Linked DNA regions of Homo sapiens. The protein of the gene in region 3 interacts with the protein of the main gene of each other region in a pairwise test. Each region holds a gene or a part of one and is shown on either strand. Other genes may lie near its edges.

The links.
Region 1: the proteins of ZNF440 (region 3) and XBP1 interact in a two-hybrid assay, tested with the Homo sapiens proteins (one large-scale study listed by BioGRID and IntAct).
Region 2: the proteins of ZNF440 (region 3) and FHL5 interact in binary tests that used the Homo sapiens proteins (3 or more experiments, as listed by UniProt).
Region 4: the proteins of ZNF440 (region 3) and ZNF330 interact in binary tests that used the Homo sapiens proteins (3 or more experiments, as listed by UniProt).
Region 5: the proteins of ZNF440 (region 3) and CCDC136 interact in a two-hybrid assay, tested with the Homo sapiens proteins (one large-scale study listed by BioGRID).

Annotation. Positions count from the first base shown.
Region 1 is NC_000022.11:28,797,770-28,801,739, reverse strand, and holds the start of XBP1 (X-box-binding protein 1), read left to right. Parts: upstream 1-1,170; 5' UTR 1,171-1,215; coding exon 1,216-1,442; intron 1,443-1,662; exon of another isoform or gene 1,663-1,703; coding exon of another isoform or gene 1,704-1,780; intron 1,781-2,586; coding exon 2,587-2,683; intron 2,684-3,970. UniProt on the Homo sapiens protein: Functions as a transcription factor during endoplasmic reticulum (ER) stress by regulating the unfolded protein response (UPR).
Region 2 is NC_000006.12:96,602,735-96,609,703, forward strand, and holds part of FHL5 (four and a half LIM domains protein 5), read left to right. Parts: intron 1-867; 5' UTR 868-879; coding exon 880-1,038; intron 1,039-2,015; coding exon 2,016-2,190; intron 2,191-3,167; coding exon 3,168-3,337; intron 3,338-6,969. UniProt on the Homo sapiens protein: May be involved in the regulation of spermatogenesis. Stimulates CREM transcriptional activity in a phosphorylation-independent manner.
Region 3 is NC_000019.10:11,815,546-11,822,514, reverse strand, and holds part of ZNF440 (zinc finger protein 440), read right to left. Parts: intron 1-6,969. UniProt on the Homo sapiens protein: May be involved in transcriptional regulation.
Region 4 is NC_000004.12:141,231,674-141,237,294, reverse strand, and holds the end of ZNF330 (zinc finger protein 330), read right to left. Parts: intron 4,771-5,621; coding exon 4,653-4,770; intron 3,581-4,652; coding exon 3,306-3,580; 3' UTR 2,598-3,305; downstream 1-2,597.
Region 5 is NC_000007.14:128,815,123-128,819,298, reverse strand, and holds part of CCDC136 (coiled-coil domain-containing protein 136), read right to left. Parts: intron 3,686-4,176; coding exon 3,368-3,685; intron 1,542-3,367; coding exon 1,440-1,541; 3' UTR 1,435-1,439; intron 169-1,434; coding exon of another isoform or gene 1-168. UniProt on the Homo sapiens protein: May play a role in acrosome formation in spermatogenesis and in fertilization.

The DNA.
Region 1 (3,970 bases), on a different chromosome or scaffold from region 3:
GTCTCTACATGTGACGTTTTCCTGTCCCCTCATTTAAAATAACAAGAGGCTGGGCGCAGTGGCTTACGCCTGTAATCCCAGCACTTTGGGAGGCCGAGGCGGGCGATCACGAGGTCAGGAGATGGAGACCATCCTGGCCAACACGGTGAAACCCCGCCTCTACTAAACTACAAAAAATTAGCCGGGTGTGGTGGCGGGCGCCTGTAGTCCCAGCTACTCGGGAGGCTGAGGCAGGAGAATTGCTTGAACCCGGAGGCGAAGGTTGCAGTGAGCTGAGATCTCGCCACTGCACTCCAGCCTGGTGACAGAGCCTGACTCCGTCTCAAAAAATAAGAAAAAAAAATAAAATAAAAATAATAGAGGCCGAAGCGGGAGGTTCACTTGAGCTCAGAAGTTCGAGATCAGCCTGGGCAACACAGTGAGACCTCGTTTCTATTTAAAAAATAAAATAAAACTAAATTTAAAAAAATGCACGCTCATAGTACAAACTTTAGAAATGGAACGAAAAACTAAAATTGAAGGTATTCCCCTCCAACCCAGAGATAACACCTATCGTTTATTAAGCCCTCACTATTGTTAAACTTAGTTTTAAAGGGCACGATCTCATTTCTTAAAGACTTCTATTCCGCAGAATTTCTTTCCAGGCTTTTTTCTTTTTCTTTTTTTGAGACGGAGTCTCGCTCTGTCGCCCAGGCCGGGGTGCAGTGGCGCGATCTCGGCTCACTGAAACCTCTGTCCAGTCTTTTCGAACCCAAGGCCCAACTGCGCTCTATCTCGACTTTCGGCTCCACTCGGATCCCGAAGTGGCGCACGAGATAAAATGTTGTCAGGCTGAGGTAATTCTCTGTTAGTCCCGGTAAAAATTCGTCAGTCTGGAAAGCTCTCGGTTTGGAATTAAATTCTGTCACTCCGGATGGAAATAAGTCCGCTTAAGGGGGGAAAATCCGTTTGTGGAGGACACGCTCCCGCACGTAACCCCCCGCGGAAAATGACCCCAAGTACCTTTGGCCAGGGATTGCCGCTGCCACGCCGGACTCCATAGCCACGGTCCTGAAACGCCCCGCCGGGCAGGCCGGACCAATGGACGCCGAGCTCGGCCGTGCGTCACGCGACGCTGGCCAATCGCGGAGGGCCACGACCGTAGAAAGGCCGGGCGCGGCGAGGCTGGGCGCTGGGCGGCTGCGGCGCGCGGTGCGCGGTGCGTAGTCTGGAGCTATGGTGGTGGTGGCAGCCGCGCCGAACCCGGCCGACGGGACCCCTAAAGTTCTGCTTCTGTCGGGGCAGCCCGCCTCCGCCGCCGGAGCCCCGGCCGGCCAGGCCCTGCCGCTCATGGTGCCAGCCCAGAGAGGGGCCAGCCCGGAGGCAGCGAGCGGGGGGCTGCCCCAGGCGCGCAAGCGACAGCGCCTCACGCACCTGAGCCCCGAGGAGAAGGCGCTGAGGAGGTGGGCGAGGGGCCGGGGTCTGGGGCCAGATCTGAAGCCGGGACTAGGGACAGGGGCAGGGGCAGGGGCTGGGAGCGGGGACCCAGCACTGGCCGCCCCGCAGGGCTCCGTCGCCTTTGGCCTGGCGGGTCGGTGCCAGCGTGGCGCGGGGCGGGGCAGGAAGCCCGGACTGACCGGATCCGCCACGCTGGGAACCTAGGGCGGCCCAGGGCTCTTTTCTGTACTTTTTAACTCTCTCGTTAGAGATGACCAGAGCTGGGGATGCGGGCACCTGTCTTCCAGGCCCTCTTGCTGTGTGGCCGCAGACTGGTGGTTCAGCCTCTTAACTCGGACATGAGGTCGAATAATCTGTTTTGGTTTACTGCTATTTCTGGAGAGGCGCGGAGCTGAAATAACAGAGCTGTTGAAAGGGCTGGGAATTCTGCGAGGCTCACTGGTCTAGCTCAGTATCTGCGTTCTTAAAATGGAACCTACTTCATGAGGTCTTTGGGGAGATTGAGACTTGGATATAATGTGCCTAGCACTTAGTCCTCCGTAAATGTTCACTCTTTTGTGATCATTGTGCCTTCTGTGATTTATGAAGTGTCTCTTCTGAGTTAATTCTTTTAAAAAAAAAAGTGTCTCCTCCAACAGACACGGACCCATCAGCAGGTCACTGCCTAGGATCTCAACACTAGAGATCAGGGAGTGGCATCAGCCTCTCCCTTTTCTAAATTGGACTGGGGGACGGAGGGTTGATGTCATAGCAAGATTGCAGCCTTCACTAGATTAATGAGGCCAGGTTGGATCCTGTTTAAGAGAACTGGAGACAGGAAGCAGCGGGGGAATAGATGGGGAAAGAGGAAAGTTCCTTATGATGCAAGATGAATAGTGTGTGTGTCCAGCCCCAGTGCTGTGACGGGGATGAGTCTGAGGTGGACGGATGATGCAATATAGGAGAGAATAAAGCAGGTCTTCGAGCTAGATTGACAGAAGACTGTATTTTTTATTTTGTTTTATTGAGGGGAGGAGCCTGAAGTGTATTTTATCATTAGTCTGTCTTATACTGTAAATAAAAATGAAAGCACCAGCTGGTAAAGTTTTCAAATAAAGACATAAATAAGGTTTGATATGACTCAGTGTGGTATGTTCCTTCTCTTCCTAGGAAACTGAAAAACAGAGTAGCAGCTCAGACTGCCAGAGATCGAAAGAAGGCTCGAATGAGTGAGCTGGAACAGCAAGTGGTAGATTTAGAAGAAGAGGTAAAACTACTTAAGGTCAAACTCTTTTATCCATTGTATACCCTTCCTTGGTGAATGTTCTGATATTTGCTTCCCATCCCAAGTTGTTTCAGCCCCTATTAGAATACAATTGAATATATGATTAAAAGTTAAACTAGGCTGGGCATGGTGGCTCATGCCTGTAATCCCAGCACTTTGGGAGCCTGAGTTGGGCAGATCACTTGAAGCCAGCAGTTTGAGACCAGCCTAGCCAACATGGTAAAATCCCGTCTCTACCCAAAAATATACCAAAAAAAAAAAAAAAAAAAAGGCCAAGCGTGAGTGCCTGTAGTCCCAGCTACTCGGGAGGTTGAGGTGGGAGGATTGTTTGAACCTGGGAGAGGGAGGTTGCAGTGAGCTGAGATCGCACCACTGCACTCCAGCCTGGGCAACAGAGTGAGACTCTGTCTCAAGAAAAAAAAAAAAAGTTTGCTGGGCACCGGGGCTCACACCTGTAATCCCAGCACTTTGGGAGGCCAAGGTGGGTAGATAACTTGAGATCAGGAGTTCGAGACCAGCCTGACCAACGTGGTGAAACCCCATCTCTATTAAAAATACAAAAATTAGCCGGGTGTCGTGGCAGGCACCTGTAATCCCAGCTGCTCCGGAGGCTGACGCAGGAGAATCACTTGAACCCAGGAGGCGGAGGTTGCAGTGAGCTGAGATCACGAGATCATGCCACTGCACTCCAGTCTGGGCGACAGAGCAAAAACCCTGTCTCAAAAAAAAAAAAAAAGTTAATCTAAGTTAGGACAGAGAGTTGGTGAAGTGGTGAAGCTTGTTGAGGGCAGAAGTGATTGACTTTGTGGCATTTGGTGCTAGATGTATCTCAAAGTAGATGGATTTAACAATGTTTATTGAGTTTGTAGTAAGAAATTAGCAAGGGCTAATAGGAAATAATTGCTTAAACTTTACATTCTTCCTGGCATGGCCAGAAATTCACTAAAGGTTCCTTTCCCCCTCTAGGGTCCACCTGTTAATCAATCTTAAATTGTTGCCAATTACACATCTTGAATACATAGAGATTATTTATATTGTTTTTTTAACCCCTTGGTCAATTTGCATATATTGAGCTTTTTAAAGTTTTAATCATTAGTTGGTTCTTCTAAGAATCATGAGTCAGGAGCAGGGATTTTTTTTAACTTATTTTGGATTTATAGTCACCACTACCACTTTTATTATTACCTGCCAGTTCAAGATAGTTATTTATTTTTATTTTATATTATTATTATTATTATTATCATCATCATTATTTTGAGATGGAGTCTC
Region 2 (6,969 bases), on a different chromosome or scaffold from region 3:
ATAGCTATAATGGAATAGCTGCTGCTATTATTTATGCTCTATACATGTTACTTTGGCCCTAAAGCCTGAAGGAACCCATTGTTGTTTTCTACCACTGATGATTTTATCTGCACTTCTGCATCTGGGCAATTGTTCACAATAGTCACAAAGACCTAGCACTTGGTCTGAGAATCCTACCTGCTGAGGAGTTTTATTTGGCCAGTTTGGTAAAGGACATTTAAATGAAGATATCTAAAGCTAGCAGAAAACAGAGATTTTGGAGTCATCAGCACATTTGGGATGGTGGAAGCCACAGCCAAGGAGGGGATGTAGTACACGAAGACCTCAGGGTAAATGTGCAGAGCCCTTATTAGGTATTCAGTAAAGACTTGAGGAGTAAAAGAATGAACTAGAAAATGACAATGTACTGATTATTAATTTATATTTGAGTAAAAAAGACTGTTATTTCCATCAAAATCTGCCTCTAGAATTTTCCAGCAAGAAAGTAAGTGATGATAGTTATTAAAAGCCCTAGCAACAGTTTATATCCTTGAGGTAAAACCATCCTGTTTCAACAGATACCATATTCTCATTGAATTCCACATTAGCTTATGATAAACACAAGATGTTTTTCATAATCTAGATGCAGGTTTTATGCATTTTTTTTTAGCAAAACATACAGGGAACTGCCAAGATGGGAGAGTAATCTTTCCTAAATCACTCCAAATGTCACCATGACTATAAGCATACTTTCCTAAATTGGGGGATTTTTGCTTAAGAAAATATAAGTTCATTCAAATGCTTCACTCACATTATATTAAGGTTTCATCATTTATCCTATAAACAAAATTCTGCTTTTATATACATTAATCACTTTGTCATTCATAGGATCAAACCAAAATGACAACTGCTCACTTTTACTGTCAATACTGCACAGCATCACTTCTTGGGAAGAAATATGTACTAAAGGATGACAGTCCATACTGTGTTACATGTTATGATCGTGTATTTTCTAACTATTGCGAGGAATGCAAAAAACCAATTGAATCTGATTCTAAGGTAAGTCTCACCTCAATTTACAGAATTACTGCCTATGAACAGCAAACAAGTGGGTTGGAGTGCCTCTTTTCATTTAGTGTTGACTTTCAACACTATTTCTCTGCTACTGGATATATAAGGATCTTAAAAGTTACCAGCAGTCAAGCTCCAGCCACTACACTTAGCACTATGAAATACAACATATGCTTAATCCTCACATGATCTTCTAAGGTAGCTGAGAATGCTAAAGATTAAAGGGGTTAAGCTATTTGTCCAAAGTTACACAGCTAGAATTTTCCTGCTGTTTCCAAGCTCTCAGTAACCTTCTGGGTGTGTTTGTTATTTCTGGAATGACAAGGGTATAAATAAATGCATAAAGAATTGAAGTTGAAAGGATTCAAAATCTGTTTTCTGATGTAAAATCAGCTTCATTTCTTACTAAACCCTATTGATACCTCTCACACCTACCACCCCTTCCTCCGACATGCTTATTCTTTCTTTCTTTCTTTCTTTCTTCTTTTCTTCCTTCCATCCTCCGATTATTTTCCTCTCTCTTTCTCTCTCTCTCTCTCTCTCTCTCTGTCTCTTTCTTCCCTCTTTCTGCCTTTGTTTTACTTAGGTGATGTTATTTTTTGTCTGTTTAGTTACATCTCAAAGAGTAATAGAACATTGCACCCTAAAATTTTTAAAAATCATTCCATGAAAAACCTCTATTATAGTTTATAAAAAGAATATAGGCAAATTTTGAAGACACAGCAGAGAATGTATTTGTTTTTTCCCAGCTGCCTTAAGTGACCCACCAAGAAAGCCCTGGGCTCTAGCTCTTAATTACCCCAGAGAGTCTCCTCTCTATGGGTAACAGTTTCAGTAACAACTTTCCCTCACGCTACTAGCACAACCTACTGACATGAGAGTCCCAGGAGTGTTCAGTTTTGTTTCATAAAATGGCCTGTATTGTCACAACCACATTTAATTAACTTTTATTTACTGTCTCAAAGGATCTTTGTTACAAAGACCGGCACTGGCATGAAGGATGCTTCAAGTGCACCAAATGCAATCACTCTTTGGTGGAAAAGCCTTTTGCTGCCAAGGATGAGCGCCTGCTGTGCACGGAGTGCTATTCTAACGAGTGCTCCTCCAAGTGCTTCCACTGCAAGAGGACCATCATGCCTGGTAGGGTCTCAAGGGGGCTCCTGTCTCTAACTGAAGCTGTGATGCTTTTCATTAAGTCCCAGCACATGAGGAGTGCAGCAGCTCCCAAAACCCTGGTTTTGAGAAAGATATCTTTCTTACTCTCTCAATCTTCTTCCGTGTACTTTAGAAATAAAAAGATTATTCATTCATTATCCTTGAACAGGTAAATTACAGTGTTCTGTGTATTTTCATATAGTCTAATTCATAGAAACATTTCAAACCAGAATCTTACCCATAAAATAAAGACAAAATGTATACCAATAACACTACATTAAACACAGTGCCCTAGGCACAATCAATGGCATCAGAAAGAGTGATTCATCATAGGCGATTGGGGCCAACTGCCATTTTGTAGCTTGACACAAACTGTTTTGAGGATCGGTTATTGTTATTCTCTCTTAGGGAAGACAGGGTTCATGTATATCATTCCACTTTTGGCAAGGACTAATTCTTTATATTTTGATCTTCTCAATCTCTATGGTCAGCAGCATAAGAACATAATTCATTCTCTGCCACTCTTGCTCTCTCATTTTCTTATTATGGATTCAGAGAATTTCTAGAAGGCCATAACTGCACAGTATAGTCTCAGTAGTTGTGCTCTGGGCATTTTTAATACCCTTGTAATGATTATTATGGCCCAATTTATCCAAACCATGTGAAACCATTAGGAGTCTCCATTAAAAGTACTTTTACATCTCCAGATTATAGGTTATGCAGAGCTTGAAAAAGTTTTCAGTCTAAGAGTGATTCTCCATCATCATGGCTAAACTTTATTAACCATTTTTTTTTCTCCAGATGAATGGGTTTTTTTGAACCTGAAAAAATACTATTTTTCTAAAAGGACAATTCATTTATCATCTTAACTTAAAACGTTTTTAAGTAATTTGATCTGTATTTGCTTAAAAAATAAAATTATGCTTGACTTATACTAACATGGCCTTACTTTTGGAGTACAGGTTCCCGCAAAATGGAATTTAAGGGAAACTACTGGCATGAAACCTGTTTTGTGTGTGAGAATTGCCGACAACCTATAGGGACAAAGCCTTTGATCTCCAAAGAGAGTGGCAATTATTGTGTGCCATGTTTTGAGAAGGAGTTTGCTCACTACTGCAACTTTTGTAAGAAGGTAATTTTCTAAAGAGGGTGAAGCTTGTGGAAACTCAGACTATTTCTTTTTAGCTGTATCATATATTTAGAATGAACTGATACTATTATGTTATATCTGTAATCAACACACCCATGGTAGTTTGGACTTTCAACATGTCCAAACCACTAGTTGTCACGATGAGCATGACCATCTTTTTTTTTTTTATTAACCATAAAATTCCAGCCACAACAAGAATTTAATATTCCAAACAGCTCAAGTGATTTGGTATTCCAGTTCATTTCACTGTTTTTTGTTGTTGTTGTTGTTTTATTTTTTTGGGATGGAATCTCGCTCTGTCACCCAGGCTGGAGTGCAGTGGTACAATCTCGGCTCACTGCAACCTCTGCCTTCCAGGTTCAAGAGATTCTCATGTCTCAGCCTTCCAAGTAGCTGGGATTACAGGTGCGTGCCACTGTGTCCAGCTAATTTTTGTATTTTTAGTAGAGACAGGGTTTCACCATGTTGGCTAGTCTGGTCTCGAACTCCTGACCTCAGGTGATCCACCTGCCTTGGCCTTCCAAAGTACTGGGATTACAGGCATGAGCCACCACACTCGGCCCATTCACTGCTTTTATACAAGATCTCACGTATTCTGGGAGAAAGCACAGGTCTCTCTTTGAATACAGATGTTTCTTAAAAAATAATGTTTGATCTATTCAGTATTAACTGTTTCAGAGAAATATGGATTTGCCTCACAAAGTGACTAAGGGAACCAAGTTAAACAGGATGTTTAACTTCTCACATTCTTTCTCAGCAATGCAAATGTCTTCTTGACTTGAAGCTTTTGTATTTCCTATGAGTAGGGCAATCGGCTCAAGAGAGTGCCAAGATCATGGGGGAAGTTCAGTAGACAAAAGACAGAAAGAAGACTAAGAGCAGCAAGTTCCTTCACTCCAGTTCCAGGATCATGTAGGGCCTTCTGACTTGGCTTCCCACTCAAAAAAAACATTTTCTAAGAGAAAAAAAAAGTAATATTTTTGAAGTAAACTTCATCCAATTCTTTTTTTATCCTCTAAGCTTTTATGTGAAAAAGTAGCTCTAACACCTTGATGAAGCCTGTCTGCATTCCATAAAATATATATGGAGGTTCTCAAAGAAATCCTTGACCTGCGAGGCATCATAAGTTTAAAATGACACCATAAATTGTCATGAGAAAGCTGAATCATGAAAATACATTGGATTAGTATAGTGGTTTCAAAGTATTTTTTATCTGTGGGTTACTTTGGCAGAACTCTTAAGCCCATTTGTATATCTGGACAGCTGGAAGTCACACTACCACTTTCTATGCACACATATGTGAACACACATGCACATACACACACACACACACACACGCAGTTAACTGTTTAACATACATAACCAATACCACTACTGCATTTAAAGAGGCAGCAATACACTATGCTAAGTTATCATTATTAAATTACACTATGTTGATGGCTGAGAATTACAATTGATCACATGACATAAAATAATCTTATGACTGAGACCTTCATTACTCTACCAAAACACTGGCTTAGAAGGTGACTTTACAAGCAGCAATCAAGCCATATGACATATGAAGCTCCAAAGAATTACCAGGGTCAATGACGGCATTTAAAAACATGCTGGAGCTGGGCATGGTGGCTCACGTCTGTAATCCCAACACTTTGGAAAGCCAAGGTGGGAAGATTGCCTGAGGCCAGGAGTTCAAGACCAGCCTGGGCAACATAGTGACACCCTGTCTGTATAAAAAAAAAAAAAAGTTTAAAAATTAGCCAAGTATGGTGACACGTGCCTGTAGTCCCAGCTACTTGGGTGGCTGAGGCAGGAGGATCACTTGGGCCCAGAAATTCAAGGCTGCAGTGAGCTATGATTGAGCCACTGTACTCCAGCCTGGGTGACAATGAGATCCTATCTCTAAAAAATATACAAAACTTAAAAACTAAAGAAAATAAAATCTTGCTGGAAATAAAATGAATAGGTTTATCTCACTGTTTTGAGAGACAACTGAGTTGGCCAATTTTAGGCTGCATTTCTTAAAGACAGACTAAAACAGTAATGATATTTGTGAGAATTATCCTAAAATCATTTATCAGACACAATAATGAAGACTCTTTCAATGCTATAACAATTCAAGAGTGAAACTTCTTTAGTACATCCATGCTGAGCACTGTCTGGGCCAAGTGCTGATGTTTCCCAGGTTATTGGAGCCTGTAACTATATTTAGGATATGATTTGAAGTCATCAAAAATTTACAAAATATTTATATTGGGTAGTAGACAGATTATGACATGCCAGATTATTTTTTATTTAGTTTTTAAAACCACAAGTCCTTTTCTAAAAAGCTAGATTTGTTTTTGATCAAGATGATCCAATCTAAACAATTTTTTTCAACCCAAACCAAAGACCAAATATTTTCTTAAAAAAAGGAAAAACTACTTGACAACCAGGCTGTTAGAACTTTTAAGCTTTAAAATCCATAGATTTTATTTTGTTAAACTAAGATTTATTTTCTGCCAGAAAGCAAATGATTTTAAACTACAAGTGCTTCAAATTCAAACTCCTCAAGGTTCAAAAGGAGTTAAACGTCTTCTTCGATTTTTCATCTGTCACATAATGAGTGCAAAATCATTATTGCCCCCACTTTTTCACAGAACAAACTTGTTCTAAATCCTGAGATCAATCAGTGGTGAAAACCAAGCTTAGATATTAGACTTTATCTTACCTTCCTACCTCTTCAAAAGGAATATAATCACAAGCAAACTATTTTTGATGTTCCAGAATTTCTTCTCTCTAATTAAACAGTCTTTGGTGTATATATCAAGTTTTATTTTGCTGTGAATACATTTTTCAAGTTTCAGATCTTTTAAGCATTGCCTGCTAATCATCAGACCAAACAAATCAAAGGAATCATGAATTCTGCTGTGTCTGCTGTAAGGCATTGGAAGTCAGTAGGAGGTATTTTAAATTGCTTTACTTCCATCACAACATTATGCTTCCCATTTACTTATTCAGAATAGTATGCTTTTTTCCCTCTAGGAAAATATCTTTCATATCAAATATCTTTAATTTCTAAGATATTTGTTATAAGATTAAAAATACCTTTAGAATAATTTTTTCACAAGTCTATGTAACAGACAAATAACATTTTTGAGTTCGTAAACAACGAGGCGGCTTAAAATAGGCTCTAAGTTTTTACTACCTAGTTAATTTGATACAAAGGTTATAGGAACCACCTCAGATACCCCATTGCTTCAGTCATTATAAAACACTTACAAAAACACATTCCAGTATCTACAGCAATTCTAAGAGCTCATTAGCTGTGAATTCAAAAGGTGATGTGGCTTAAAAATAGTTACATGAGAAAAAATGCCCAAGATTTATCCATCTGATTCTAACTAAAGATTTCTCAGCCTTTTAAAAAGTAGAATTCATGGATTAAATTGGTTTAGAAAGAAAATATTATCTTATGCAGAACTAATTACATCTCAGGCAAAACACTGCACATCACACCTTAAGGCTCAATGTACAACCAGGGCTTATTCCATTGAGTTCTAATTCCCACAGCACCCCACTGCTAGATACAATATTGGAATTGCTTTCCAACTATTTTTTCCTTTGGCATTTATTCA
Region 3 (6,969 bases):
CCAATGATACAAGTGGTGAACACTTAACAGAAAAAGCAGGGACAAATGGTTATCTACAGGAGAATAATCAATCCACTACCTGTCATCTCCATATACAATAATTTAATTAATTCTAGAGTTGCCTCTTATACTGAGTTCTTATAATTATATGTTACCTTAGCATGCATTTTCTTTAAGGATTTAACTTTCTCATAACGGAAGAAAACTTTATTCAAACTCAACAGAGTTTCTAGTTCTCCACTTTCTCCCAGTTCCTCCATGTGGTCAACTCACATATATTTATTACACAACTGCATTCTGGTGACCACCTCCCTGTGGGACAGCTAGATATAACCAATTTGACTTGTACCACTGACCCTTACACCCCACATGGATGGTACAGACCACCTCTTAATCACAGTGCGACTTCACAGAACTAGTGCCTGCTTGCTCTAAATCCACCAGAAACAACTCCCCAAGAGACACCTCCTTGGTCAATTCCCTAGACCCCAAGAAACGCTTTGGCCCACAGGTCCCTGTCTGTCTTGCTCCCCACCTACTGGTTGAATGTGCATCCTGGATGTTCCCCCCACTCTGTGTTGCTCTGCAGCTGTGCTGCCCTCATCTCCTGGGATTGTGAGCCATGCACTGTATGTCATGGGCTTTGTTGAGTTGCCTCTTCTGTGTCTCACTGACCTACGCAATCATTCTTGGATTTGGTTCTAGTGACAAATGCAATGTAAAGTTAATTTGAAACACTCAAGCTGCAATCTATGAACAATTCTTTACAAGGGACAAGCCCACAGAGGGGCCGTGCTGGCTGGAACACAGTGATGTCTGACTCATGTGTCAGCACAGTCACCCTATCACATGAGACATCTCTCCACCCCCATCCTGCTCACCGAAGCGCTCAATGACTACTTTCCACCAACACTGCACTATACCCCCCTGTGTGCCCCCTTTCATATTCTGATTTGCAGGCTACTGGTCCACCCTGCTGGGGTGGTCTTTGTTTTTTGGGGTTTTGTCTCCCTTCACAGTTGACACAATCCAGAGGACAGGAAGCATTTCTCTTTTCTCTCAATAGCACCATCCAACTGGCTGACCAGCCATAGGTCTCCAAGTTCAGGAAACTGGGGTTTGGAAAGAAATGCTGAGCATCTCGAGGGGTTGGCTATCTAGATGCAGAGTATACTAGGAGTCTCCTTCCATCACAAGGCATTCAGCTGCTCTCTTGGGAGTCCCCATTCTCCTACCTCAGTCTGTCCCCTGGGAGGAGTGACTCCGGCTGATACTCACTAGACCCTCCAAGAGACATGGCAACTGTGGGCATATTAGGTCACCCCAATTCTGCCACCCAGGACCAAGAAAACATAGGAGAGTGCGCTGAAGACATAACACCCTTTGAAGTTTCCAAAGGGGAGCCTCAACCAAAAGACAATCTGATAAAATCTGTTTCCAGAACAGATGAATGGAGGAGAAGCATGCATATTTTGACAGGAAAGTGTCTGGTGGTGATTCTCTGAACATTTCACATAGAGGAAAGGAGAAGTGCTAATTGACTATTTCCCACCAACACGGCATTGTGTCCCCTGTGTACCCCCATGTATATTTTGCTTTGCAGGCTATTGCTCCACCCCGTTGAAGTGGCCTTTCCTTGTCTTTTGGGAGTTCTCTGAGTTCTCTCTTCAGAGATGAGACAATCCAGAAGATAGGAATCATTTCTCCTTTTCCTCAATAGCAACATCCAATTGGCTGACGGTCATGTGTCTCCAATGAATGGAAACTGGAGTTGGGAGAGAGAAGCTGAGCACCCCAAGTATTGGTTATGTAGATGAAGAGCATACCAGGCATCTCCTCCACTATTATTCATTCAGCTGCTCCCTCAGGAGGCTCCACTCCCCTAGGCACTGATAGCCACTAGACCCTCCAGGAGACAGGGCAGTCGTGGGGATTTTGAGTCATCCCCAGGCCGTTCTAAAACCCGAAACCTGGAAAAGACAGGAGGGTGTAGGGCCGGGCACAGTGGCCGGATTACGCCTGTAATCCCAGCACTTTGGGAGGCCGAGGCGGGCGGATCACAAGGTCAAGAGATCGAGAACATCCTGACTAATACGGTGAAACCCCGTCTCTACAAAAAATACAAAAAAAATTAGCCGGGCGTGGTGGCAGGTGCCTGTAATCCCAGCTACTCGGGAGGCTGAGGCAGGAGAATGGCATGAACCCGGGAAGCGGAGCTTGCAGTGAGCCGAGATCGCGCCACTGCACTCCAGCCTGGGCGACAGAGTGAGACTCTGTCTCAAAAACAAACAAACAAAAAGGATACGAGGGTGTATGGAAGACACATCACCCTGTAAAGTTTCCACAAAGGAACCTCATCCCAAAGACATCCTGATAGGTGACTGTGTCTAGGAAAGATAAAAGGAGGAGAGGCAGAAAGGTTTTCTCGGGAAAATGTCTAGTGGTTATTCTCTGCTTTCCTCTCATGTGAAATGTTCAGACACAGATTTCACTGCAAGCCCTTGAAGAGTCAGGCTGTGGTATGAGGGTGGAGGATTTGAGGCCCTGCATCCCGTATATTTGGAAATTGTAGTGGGAAACCACTCACCCTGGAAAGTGTGAAAAAATTTAAATAAGAAGCAATGAGACCAAACTGTGTGTAGTATTCTAAGGTCCTACCTAAGGACACTAAAATCAAATTTAAATAAAACACTTGAAAATTACTAATTTATAGGGAAATGAAATTTATGCTTAATCAGGCATAATCCACCAATTAACCTGTGATTACATGACTAGAAATCTTCTACCTATATAGGCTGTGTGAACAAGTAAGTCAGGCCAGGCATGGTGGCTCACTCCTGTAATCCCAACACTTTGGAAGGCCAAGGCGAACGGATCACTTGAGGCCAGGAGTTCGAGGCCAGCCTGGCCAACATGGTGAAACCCCCACCTTTACTAATAATATAAAAATTAGCCAAGTGTGGTGGTACGCACCTGTAATCCCAGATACTTGGGAGGCTGAGGCAGGAGAATTACTTTAACCCAGGAGGCAGAGGCTGCGGTGGGCCCAGATGGTGCCACCGCGCTCCAGCCTGGGTGACAGAGTAAGATTGTGTCTCAAAAAAAATCAAAAAAACAAACAAACAAAACACAAGTAATTAAAAAATTTAATCTCTAAATTATCTTTAAGCAATGTGATCATGGAGTTGAGTCACCTGACACACAGCTTTTACATAGCCAGTTGGAACCCTCCTTTCCCTGATTACAGATTCGCCTTCTTTCTTACCTATACTGTTTTGTAAAATGTTGTAAATGACTGAGGGAAAACAGGAAAGACCCTTTCCCTCATCACTATTTTTTTAAAATTTAATATGATTTTTCATAATTGAGATGGGGGGGAGGGTCTCACTATGTTGCCCAGGCTGGTCTTGAACTCCTGAGATCAAGCCATCCACCTGCCTTGGCCTCCCAAAGTGCTGGGGTTACAGGTGTGAGCCATCCCACAGGGCCTCTCTTCACTACTGATCTCTGTAGTAGACTAACTTCCCTCTTAACTTTCTCACACAAAGACTTCATGGCTATCACACTGTCTTCAGCTGGAATGTTAAATTCACTCTTAAATTGAAAAGGAAATAAAAACGAGCTTTAAAGAAAACAAGCTCTGGGGGAAAAAAAACCATAATGAATTAGGTTGTTAGCCAGGTGCAGTGGCTCACGCCTGTAATCTCAGCTATTTTGGAAGCCAAAGAAGGAAGACTGTTTGAGGCCAGGAGCTAGAGACCAGCCTGAGCAATGTATTGGGACCCCACCTCTGTAAAAAATAAAAAATTAGCCAGGTGTGCTGGTGGGCGACTATAGTCTCAGCTACTTGGGAGGCGGAGGTGCTTGAGCCGGGGAGGTCAAGGTTGCAGTAAGCCATGATCGCACCACTGCTCCAGCCTGGGCCACAGAGCAAGATATTGTCTATAATAATAATAATAATAATAATTAAATTGTTGTACCTCATACATCAGCCTTCTATGGAAAATGTAATCCTGTTATATTTATTTGCCTTTCGCCTATATAAGTGTTAGGGAAGCAGGTGCCTAGGGGAGCCAGAGTAACACACCAATTTAAGTTCAGCTCCATCTTGAGACTAACAAGAAACACTCCTTGCCAGTCGCAACCCATGATCACAAAATGTTTCCCATGAAGGAGACAGCCTGAAGATGCCTGCAAGTATCCTTACACTCCCACAACAACAGAATGTCCTGATGTCCCAATACCCATAATAATATGTGCTTTCAAGATAATTATAGTTTTTTTTGTTTGTTTCGTTTTGGTTTTTTTTTGAGACAGAGTTTCACTCTTGTTGCCCAGGCTGGAGTGCAATGGCACAATCACGGCTCACTGCACCTCCACCTCCCAAGTTCAAGCAATTCTCTTGTCTCAGCCTCCCGAGTAGCTGGGATCACAGGCACATGCCACCATGCCCAGTTAATTTTTTTTTGTATTTTTAGTACAGACAGGGTTTCATCAGGCTGGTATCGAACCCCTAATCTCAAGTGATCCGCCCACCTCGGCCTCCCAAAGTGCTGGGATTACAGGCGTGAGCCACCACACCTGGCCTGATAATTATAGTTATGTTTTAATGCACTTGTATGCACTAAAATGTAAAGGATAGTTTTCTTTAAATCAACAGAGTAATAAATTTTGTGACGCTGTCAGCCCACATGCACGTAGGCACAGCTCAGTTTAGTCTTTTACATAGACAAGATCCCTACATAAGAAAAACTTAGACAGTACGTTCCTCCACTTGCTTTAGGAGGATGCCCTACTCTGTAAGAGAGGCTTTCTTTCTTTCTTTCCTTTTTTTTTTTTAAATAGAGACAGGGTCTCACTGTGTTGGCCACGTTGGTCTTGAACTCTGTCTTGTTTGTTTGTTTTGTTTTTGTTTTTTGAGATGGGGTCTCACTCTGTTACCCAAGCTGGAGTGCAGTGGCGTGTCCTCAGCTGGGCTGCAACCTCTGCCTCCCGGGTTCAAGTGATTGTCCCATCCAGCCTCCCGAGTACCTGGGACTACAGGTGCAGGCCACCACACCCGGCTAATTTTTGTTATTTTTGGAAGAGATGGGGTTTCACTATATTGCCCAGGCTGGTCTCAAACTCCTGACCTCAAGTGATCCTCCCACCTCGGCCTCCCAAAGTGCTTAGATTACAGGCCTAAGCCATCATGCTGGCCCAGAGTAGCTTTCAATAAACTCTCTTTGCACTGTACTTTCCGACTCGTCTTGAATTCCTTCCTGTATGAGATCCAAGAACTCTCTTGGGATCTGATCAGGACCTCTTTTCCCAGTAATATAAGCAAGAACTTAACTTCCAATTTTGGAGTACTGAGTCCATTTCTCTGGAGTCTGTGTTTTTCCCAAATGGGCCATTGCTATCTTTTTGCTTGAATAAACTCTTCCAGTTGAAATCTGAAACTTTCGATTATTTCGGGTTGACAAGTCCAAATAAGGTGACTGCATCTCTGCAACCAATCAAGCATTTATCTGGTTTGTCTCCTCATGTACCTTATAAAAGTCCAGCCTTCAACCTGTAAACTAAAAATAAAAACATACCTTCTGGCCTGGTGAGGTGGCTCACACATGTAATCCCAGCATTTTGGGAGGCCGAGGCCAGTGGATCACTTGAGGTCAGGAGTTCAGGAACAGCCTGGCCAACATGGTGAAACCCCATCTCTACTAAAAATACAAAAATTAGCCGGGTGTGGTGGCACATGCCTGTAATCCCAGCCACTCGGGAAGCTGAGGCAGGAGAATCGCTTGAACCCGGAAGGTGGAGGTTGCAGTGAGCCAAGATAGAGCCACTGCACACCACCCTGGGCTACAGGAGACTCTGTCTCAAACAAAAACAAAAACAAAGTACCTTCCCAGCTAAGTGAAGTGACTGGCTCTTGGCCAAGGGAACCCCCAAAAAACCCTGAAAATTGAGTGCCTCTGTATGACAGGATGGGAGGTGAGACAGGTCTCCTTATACCCTCTCCCTTTAGGAGTTTACATGCAGCAACTGACGCACATTCATGTAAAAACAGACATTATCTGACTGGAAAAACAGACTCCTTGTGGCAACAAGATACCAAATTACAAACAAGACCTAAGGCCACGCAAGGCAAAGGTAAAGTTACGCCTTAGAATTCATAAAATCTCGAGAAACAGGTCTGTTTTTTGGCTGGGATGGAATGAAGTGGCAGATAACAGACCCCCTTCCTTCAGCATTCCTTCCTACCTCCTCCAAACTTTAGACAAAGATTCAACACTCTCAACCAGCTGCCACCTACAGAATCCCTCAACTACCTGTGCCTTCTAACCCCCCTTCCACAGGTCCCACCCTTTCTGCCAATGGAACTTACACCTTCCAGGCACTGATTCATGATTTTCCCTGCAATTCCTGTCTCTCTGAAATGAATAAAACCAAACTGTCTTGAGCTGCCTCGGGACCACTTACTCCAGGCTGCTTGGGGTTGTGTTTCCCTCGGCCAACGGCTCTCCTATTCGGCTCCTAATAAACTTCTTTATTTTACATAGCTTGGCTTTTTCCGTTGACAAACCACAAGCCAGGACTGGGTGTTTCTCATTCGTGAATCGTTGTTGTTGTTTTGAGATGGAGTCTGGCTCTGTTGCCAGGCTGGAGTGACGCCGTCTTGGCTGACTGCAACCGCCGCCTCCTGGGTTCAAGCAATTCTTCTGCCTCAGCCTCTCAAGTAGCTGGGATTACAGGCACGCGCCACCATGCCCAGCTAATTTTTGTATTTTTAGTAGAGATGGGGTTTCACCATGTTGGCCAGGCTGGTCTTGAACTCCTGACTTCCTGATCCGCCCGCCTCGGCCTCCCAAAGTGCTGGGATTACAGGCGTGAGCCACCGCGCCCGGCCCTAAACTCTTTAATTGTTAACGTACCTCAGTTTAATTTTTAACAGAAAAAAGTGGGCACTGGGGACCCCAAAGACCG
Region 4 (5,621 bases), on a different chromosome or scaffold from region 3:
ACCCTGAAAAATTTATGAGTATGGCAAAAAATTTATAAGGTTTATCCACTGAAAGTTCGTAAAATTTATCTCCTCCCTCTGGAACACGTCTCCTACCAAGTTCTCAATGTTCTAGCCACTTGTTCATCCAGCCTCAACATAGTCATTGTAACAGATCTATGTTCTTTAGGATAAAGTGGCATAGTTTACAAAACTGTAATTATATATTGTTGCCCATTCTGTGTAAATGCAAATTGTTTCTGATTCCCTTCTCTTATTGAAAGAGAATACATTTGCATGAACCAAGATGATATTCCATACACTTGGGTCACGTGTATCTGCTCTAACAAAGATATCACATCTAGCATAGAAGTTGCAATCAAGGATATTACTTCATTGAGCTTGTCTGTAGCCATCTTCTAGGATCCATAAAGTTTCTGCAGGGGCCAAAATGGTGAATTAACAGATGTGATGAGACGATCATCTCTGCATCTTTTAGATCCCTAAGGTGGTACTGCGTCCTGCCAAGTGATACTATTGTGTATTACTATCTGCCTGAAGTGAGAAGATACAAGGGTAGGCAGTGTCAGAGGCTTCACTTGGCCCTCCACACATGCTGTGAAACCACTGTAAGCTTAAACTTGCCCAGGACTCCTGGTATAACCCAACTCCTCCCTCACCCCCTACAAAGAAACAACAGGGACACTGAGTATCTGGATATCAATGTCAATTCAGATTCTATGTTCAACAATCCTTGAAATCCCTTATATTTCCCCTTTCCTAAGCTTAGAATTACCAGAGCAAATGGCTGTGGGTCCCTTTGAGTTAACACCAAAAGGAATCATTACCTTGTACAAATGCCATGGTGTCCTGTCTTTCCTCCTGGGACCCAGCCACCTCTTCAGTCTGGGCTCCAGGTCTGAAAAGTGACTCAGGTCCAGAAACTGAGCAACGGATGCTTTATTTTTATTGGGGTGACTACCATTAGCTTCCATGTAATCCATCCTTAATTTTATCTAATGGGAAAAACTGAGTAGTATTCTTGTTGGCTACCCATTTGTTTTGTCCCTAAAGTGCTGTGTTACATTAGCCTTCTCCATAACTCTTTGCAGGTTAGGACCCCTTGACTACCACTCTCACTTTCTCATTAACTGTAACCCCCTGACTTTTGGCAGTTGGGCACTGCCACTTTAGCCACTATTTTTCAGAATCTTGTCATACATTGCCATCAGCAAGCTGAACTCTGTTTTCTTTTCCTACTGTCTGTATGGCCTACCATGAGCTACCACACGTTTTTAGAGATGCTTATACCCCATCATCAGTGCACATTTCTATGGCACTGTTAAATGGTGTGTCCACTGAGCCTTCCCATGGAACATAATCATCTCATCTTCCAATCCATTCCAGCATACCCAATTCCCTTAACCATTTAAATCCATTCTTCCACCATGTCACAGTAATCCCAGTGTTTCGACTTTGCTCAGAAAGGACCATTACTTTTTCCATATTTCAAGAAGCCATCCTGGTAATGAGTTCGCACCATCTCACAGGATCCTAGCCAGGTTATTAAAACCCTCTAATTTAACTCTTAGCAATCCAAAGATCCAGTGTCAGGGCTGCCATCAAACTCCTCCCTAATTTTATGTTTTGACCCTCTTAAGCACTGATTCCAATCTCAAGCATATTCCTCCAACTCTTCGTAATTCTTGCAGTTCTTTTGGGGCATAGTCTTGTTTCCTCCCACTTCAGTTCCAGCACCTCAACTGAGTTTTGCTTAACTTTATCGTCACTTAACCCTAATTTTAGGCCTGGAGATACTAACTATAATGGCCTAGAGATAGGGCAAGTCTTGAAGAGAGCATGTTTCCCGAGGAAAGAAGCCTCTGCATTGTCATCCAGCCTGAGAATGAAGTGGGGAGTGCTTGCCCTTAACATGGAGGGGTGGGCTATGACTGCAAACTCAGAAATGCAGGAGTCTGGGGAGTAAAAATCTCCAGCACCATCGATTCAGATGTCTCCATCTAATTTGTCAGGGTCACAGGTTTTCCCAAGCAGTTTGCCGATGCTGGCATAATAGACTTGCCTTGGCTGGCAACTGTCTTTAAATTTTATCCTTTGAAACTATTAAGTCTCGGGCTTGCTCCTCAGTTTTTTCAAGCCGTCCTACTGCAAAAGGTGAAAAGCTTTTTCACATGCCACCAGAGGCCCTCTAACTTTGACACCTGGCTTTCCATTGCCTGTTATTGTCCTTGGCTGTTAAGTATGCTTCTATAGAACAAAAATGGCTTAACAATGGCCATTCAACCCTGTTATCCTCATAGCTACAATTTTCTCCATACATCTAAAATGTGAGGCAATCAGATATTGTCTCTCCTTGTACAACTACCCAATCCCTATTAAATGCCAGTGTTAAGTTGTAACAACTGGGACTTGTGACAGGACTGTCCTCCACCTATCAATGATGGGGTCTGGGCTGCTTATCTTTAAGTGTATACCACACAGTCTCTATTACCTATTTCCATATGTGTGAAAACTGAAGCAGTTTGTAAAAAAATTAGAATGCTTTCCAAAACAAACTGAAAATACAGAACAAAAAATTAAATATAATGTCAAAAGTATTTAAGTGAAATAATAGATTTATTCAAAGAGAAATAAAATGTCCTGGGTAAAGCTTCTGTAATAATACTATTTCTGATACTGTATCTCTGAAAAATGGCTAACTAGTCACCTTATCAATACATTTAAGGCATCAATAATAGGTACCACTGAGGACATACATTGTGAAGAAAGAGAAGAATAAGTCAAATACTAAAACATACTTATCATGACAACTCAAGGTGACATGAATATTTAATGAAAATTTAGAATATAACAACATATGACTCTCATTCTGTGGACATAAAAGGAAAAATACAGTAATTCATTTTACTCATTACATTTTACAAAATCAGCCCAATGAAGCAGTATTTTTTAATAAAAACAGTAATTTAATTTCAAACAAATATATTACCATCCTATTCCTTTATCTTGTATATATGTATCTAATTGGCAAAACATACTTTACTGAAATCAGTAACAATCCAATCCATGATACTTCAATTGCTTCGATCAATAAACATCTTAAATTTGAAACTCATTTTTCTTATGCCATAAGCCTGATTATCAGTTCTATAAAAACGCTACACCCTATTGCTTGGCCCATTAAGTGTAACTAGTCTTCTGCACAAGGCTAAGTGGCTAAGGTACTTTTGAACAACCACACACAATTCATCAAGCACACACACTCACTCCTGCTCCTCTCACACACGGCCACCAGAGCAGCTCCCCTAGTTCTCTTGTTCCTCATAGTGAGCATAGCCACTAGCATAGGTCCTTCCTAAATTCAAATTAGTAAACAAATCTGATGACTCAGTATCTGAATCCTTTCTGCCTTCATCTTCTTCCTCTTCATCATCCTCTGCTTCATACTCATCCTCCTCCTCATCGTGGTAGCTGGTATCACCATACTTATCAGATGAAAGGTTCTTCCAATAAGCATCATACCCAGAAGCTCCATCTCCCTCTTCACCTCCAGTCTGCCTGCCAAATTTCAGGGAGCGTGCTATAGAAGACAGACAAGTACAAGGCATTTTGTTAGTTCCAGTTCTCTACATTCTCATCTTCCTCTATAAAATTTCATGGATTTCATTGGCTGCTTCAATCCCAAATGAAAAAATAGGTCACATTTTCCTAATTTTTTCACCTGAGTCTATATACAACACCATAAAAAATAAAAATTACAGTGTAATTTCATTAAATCTAGAAAACAAATTAGACCAACAGACCACTCCAAAGGTATTAAGGCATGTTTAAAACAAAAATACCTTCCGTTTGGCCACTGACAGTTTATTTTCAAATCACATAAATCACAGAATACAGCTGATTTCGTATCAGTACATTTTTCTTAAGACAGCTATTTTACAATGCAGATGCCCTTAAAAACAAAGCCTGTCATTTCTTCTGCCTTAATAGTGACACAAAGTTCAGTGCAGAAGATCAGCAAAATCATCAGTCTCACCTCACCATGCAACTACATCTGTGATTAAACAAAGCAGTCAGTCACTTAGAATTATGGTTCCATTCTGATATGTTTGGTTAAGAGTCAAACTTCTCTTTAACAAAATTGCGAGCTGCATTACTATAAGCATGCTTATTCCTTCACAAAAAAAGTTACATAAAAACCATAAAATAATTTCCTATAGTAGTGCTATATTACATAAATAAACATAGGTGCTCAAATATCACACACCTAAGATAGCTTCAGAGTGAATTTGACTTCTAGGTACTTAAAATTACCACCACTTTAATATTAAGGAATTATAGCTACTCAACTATTTAACAAGGAAGACTCAACAAAAATAAAAAAAAATCACTCTTTATCTTAAATTTCAGTATTTGCTGTCATTAACTAAGGCAAATACCAAATATCAAAATGAATATTGGTCTATTTAAGTAAAACTGAAAAACTTTACCCACATATTTTCCTAAGCTGTAAAATTCCACTTGCTTAAAAGAACACATTCATCTTTTCAAATAAGAAGAGGCAATAAGAAAAATAGACCAAAAAAAAAAAAGATAAACTTTGTCTAAGTATGAAAGCAAAAATCACTTCCTTAGTATCTTAAGGGCCTTACTTGACATGCTAAGGTCCTTAGTCTCCTGAGTTTCATGCCCACATTTAGGACAAGGAGGCTGTTTTCCTTTTTCTTGCTTAAACACTTTGCTCCTTGTATGATCATCACAGAAACAAGCCTGTATAGGAGAAGCAAAATAAAGTAAATAAATAAAAATGTAAAAATATACAAAAAGACAGTATTCAGTGTTTTAAAGATATAGCTTTATTAAGGCAGTGAGATTAACAATTTTGTTGGGAGCAGTCACACTTCTCATTTCATTTTCTTAACAGAAATGGTTTTTGTCAGGACCCTTCTGAACAATGATCTAACAAAAGGCAGACTATATTGAGTATGACATGTAAGTACATTTAGCTGTTCACAAATATTTCAGTACTCATAAGGTCCCTGATGAAATGAAATAATGGTGAACAGCCTATTTACTCTCACACAGTGTATGGTCTAACTAGGGATGGAGACAGTGAAAAGGCAATTACAAGACACTAAGCACTGAACGGGAAGTGCAGAGGGAAGGGCACTAAAGCAGACATGGGATTTGGGAAAGGCATCTTAGAGACACGAAGTCTTAATAGCCATATGAAGAATGGGAGGGCAATAGGGTAAGCCAAGATGGAAAAGTATTCCAGACAAAGAAAACACAGATAATGCCTGAACACCATTTGGTAAAACTAGAACAGAGTTGGAAGATAAATAAGACATAGGGTTAGGAATATAAGAACTAGAGAAACGCTTCTGAGAGGAAGGGCATTGGCTGCATCTGTTTAGTAATCTTTGACGAACGAATGCTAGAGACTAGGCCTAAGGACACAGAAAAATTTGGAAATCTTTACCCAAACTCTTCTAAGCAGGTATATTTTGACATTAATTAAAATAGACTCTCATCATCTTGGTCAGAATGTTCTCCACTAAAAACACAGAGCCAGGATTCCAGAGAAATGTGCACTAGCCACAGCTCTACTAAAAGGTGAC
Region 5 (4,176 bases), on a different chromosome or scaffold from region 3:
GCACAGGTGCATGTTGGGGCCTCCTGGAGCTCTGGGGATAACAGGCCCCACCAGGAGAACCCTTCACCAGCAGTTCTTCCTCTCCCTCTGATTGGGCCGGGCTGGGTCTGAGGTAGTGGAAGGCTGTGGCTGAACTCTTTGGGTTTCACCCGTAGTGCCTTAAGACTTCTGGGGGGTGACAGGGGAGAAACAGTCATAGAGAGGGGCCCCGTCACTAAAGCAGTTGTGGACCAGGGAGTAAAGGGAATACCTAAAGTCAAGAAGAAAAGTGGAGGCTTGAAGATGAGTAACAGGAAAGCTGGGGAGGGAGCAGGAGGAAGGACAGAAAAGGAAATGGAGAGAAGTGCCACCAACAAATCCTCCAGTTGCCACCCTGTGCATTAAGCTACATTCCGTTCACAGGAATGTGAGAAGAGAGGGGAGTGGAGGGGGAGGCAGGGAAAGCATGAGAGAGGAGCCAATGCAGGACTAGAGAGAATACCTTATGGGTTCCAGAAGGCAGGTGGAACCCCAGGCTTCTACCTTAGGCCGTAAGACCACATTCTGCCTCCTGAATTTGGTATCCTGTTGACAGTGTACATTACATGTGTGGGAGCTGACAGGAAAGTGGCCAGAATATATCAGTCTTGATTTCCTGAGAACACACATCTCTGGCTAGTAGAAACTTTTCACTAATACCTCATTCTCTCCAGAAAACCTAGCTGGGGAAGCCAATTACCATGGAATCTGGCCCACAAAATAGATAAATAGATAACTAATAAAATTTCCCGGCATTCTGTTCTGACTTTTCCGGAGACTGGAAGTCCAGAAGCAGAGAACTGTTCAGTAGAAAGAGCAGAATACAGTAGGGGTTCGGTTCCATTTCACCAAGCTTGATGGACCAGCTTAGGTTGCCCTCCTACCAATGCCCCTGGGAGGATCATGAGGATCAGAGCTCTTCAGAGCTCCTCTCTCTCCCAACAGAAGAGGGATTCCTTATTTTGCCATCTTGGGTAGCAACAGTAGTGAGAACTTGGCTCCGGAGTTAAACCAAGACAAAGAGAGTCCAGGCCAGCCTTGCAAATATCAGCTCATCAGAAGTGGTCAGGCTAGCCATCACACAGAGGATGAGCGGGGATAAAGAAGTAGTGAGGCAGCTTTGACAGCAGCAACCAAGCTGGGCTTATCCAAGTTTTTCCCAGCCAAGGATTGAAACAAACCATGTCTCTGGCAAGCATTCCAACCTCCTATGCATTACGAAGACATGCTCAGAGATGTCAGAGGCTTTGCAGTAGCCCAAGGAAAAGTCAGAACTAAAACTCAGACCTGAGCATCACCTATTATAAAATGGCACAAGCAAGAAGCAAGCAGCTGGGAGAAAAGGGAAAGAGGAGAGGCCAGGGCAACCTGCACCCTCCCTCTATCCCTCAGAAGGAGAGGAAGCAATACCAGTACCTGCATTAGGACGACGTCTCAGCCCACCAGCACCAGAGCAAAGCCGAGATGACCACCAGGCCTACAAGAGGCAAGGAGAAGATGGGGGGATTGGGGGTAGGGGATGACTGCAACACACCAAAATGAGAAAGAAGCACGAGGAGAGACCAGGAGATGTGAGACATAAACGCATGGATCCAACAGATAATGAAGATGAGAAAACAAAGGGAAAAGAGAAAGGAATCAAGAGGTTAAAAAACAGGTAAGCTAGAGCAGTTGCATGTCTTTTCTGCTGCCTGGGCCTTGGTTCTTTCCACCGGCAGTCTGCAGGAATTGCAAAATTGAATGGGTTAAGCAGCAGCTAGGTCCAAGTCAGGCGGTGAGTCCAGTTTTCTTTCTGTCTCGTCACATACCTCTCATATCCTGTCAAGCAGGAGGTATCTGCATCTAGACCTTTCTTGTGACTTTTCCTAGGTCACTCTAGGAAGAGCCAGTCTTCTACCAGGTCACCTGTCCCTTTGTTCTAGCCTGCTTTCCATTAAGTTTCTTAGTATTTTGGGCTCTGGTCCCTTAGATCCCCTAGGAATCTAATGATATCATTGTAAGACAACATGCACCGAAACAAACTGACAATGGAGAAGGGCTAGTTCTTTCACTGCAACAATCTTCCAGAGAGAAACCGATTTTGCAAGGTGGTAATACACATGCCCTAGAGCTGCCTGCAAAAGACGCAGGACCCACGGGGCAAAGGGATCTCTCCATATATAGAAACATAGAATATATTTGAAGTAGAAAAATCAGGTCTAGCTTTAGAAATGTGGCACCGAAGGTAAAGACATCTGTGAGGCTCTGAACCAGCACGTGGTGGAATATGATGAGCTCAAGGAAACATGATAGTGGGAGGGGCTGCAGTGGTTCCGACTTTCCACATCTTAGGTAATGGTCCCCTGGCACAAGGTAAGCAGAGCACTGCACACTGGATCCTTAGCCAGTGCTGAAGACCAAATTGCTGGAAATTCCAGATATCCTCAGAGTTGACTGGATAATCCCACCACAAGAGGCTTTTTTTCTTTACCTCTGTTTAGAACAGAAAGAACCTGTAATGTAAGCTGAGGACTTACACAGGAAATACTCTAACTCTGTAGGGACTCTGAGCCCTGAGTTAAGTCCAGGGCAAGAATTCAGTTGCTACATACCTGCAGAGACGTACCAGTTATTAAAATATGGAAGTACTTCTATATTGTTGGTAAGTTACCTCTGGCATTCTGGCATATATATCCCAGGATACCTCCACCCCAACCTCTCAATGATCTAGCAACTGAAGGGTTAAGGCTAGGGATGGTCTCCTTGGACTAGTCTATGCTCCTACTGTACAGATGTGAAATATTTTCACTATCACTCTTGATCACTTCCAGGCCCCACCTTCATGTCCTGTGATATACAGAATCCAGGGGGCAACATGAGCCTACAAAGAAGAGATTATCCCCTGACACACCCCTAACAGCAACAACAAAGGTTAAACCTAACAGGGCACCATAGGAAAACTGGACTGAGTGACTTGCCCAGACCGACAGAAATGGCCTGAAGTAGACTTCACACTGTCAATGTCCTTCCTGCAGTGCCAAAAGAGGGATGAGGGAACACTCCCGACATAAGGAAGGTAACAAAGGCTACTACGTAAATGAAAGGACTCCAGAGACCCCACGCTGGTTCCCAGAAAAGGTGGTCATTGTGAGGTGGTTCCACAGCAAACGGGGCTGAGCCCATGATTTCGTGCAGACAGACTGCTCTCATCTCCCACTTCTGCATCTCCACCTCCCCGAAGGGTTGTGCCTTAGAGCGCGAGGCCTCCACTCCTGGAGATATCCATCCTTGGCAGGGCCACCCATTAACTCGGAGTTATCTGAGCCCAAGACCCCACTTCCCACTTGATCTAGGCTTTGGCTCTGGTTACCTTTTTGCTCTCGGAAAGTCTGAGGGGGTTATTTTCTTCGGGACTTTCAAGGGAAGAGTCGGCGTCATCCTCCTCCTCTTCACTGTCTTCTTCCTTCTCCTCTTCCTCTTTGTCCTCTTCATTTTCCTCCTGATCTTCTGTGGATTTAGCTTCCTCAGGATCTGCTGGCTCAGCAACTAGCTCATCCCCACACTGCTCCTTTGCTTCCTCTTTCACTTGCTTTTTTTCCTCCTCCATCTCCTCTTTCTTTTCCTCCTCTTTTGCTAGTCCATCTAATTTCCTCTGGCTGGCCTTGTAGTACAGCACTACCTCCAGACTCTGTGGGGTGGGAGTAGGGCAGGATGGCGGCTGCGTTACCTGTGAAGCTCCTAATCTCATGACAATGCTGTACTAGCTCCAGGAAACATGACTTCCAGCATGTCAGAGTGCAAGGGTGTGGCCCGGTGCTCTGGGACTGTGAGCCAATCCCCTGAGCATATGTAGAGGGCATCACACCTCACCTCTCAGGGCCACTATGTCTGTTGGCCATTAAGCCATTTCAAACAGCTACCACAACTAAAGAGTCTTGGGCTCTGCACCTAAATTGTTGCTTCCCACCCCTACAGTGACTCTTCTTTTACCCAATCCTCTTTCACTTATTAGTACATAACTACTTTGAACAAATTCCTCCCTCTTCATCTATTTGGTTCTTCTCTTGGGCATGTAACCCAGGAAGAACAGGAGCCCCAACAAATGGGGCTGGGCAAACTGAAGGAGTTGTCCAGCCTAGGGGCTGTGGTCCTTTGGGGCTGCACCTCCCGATGTGAGTT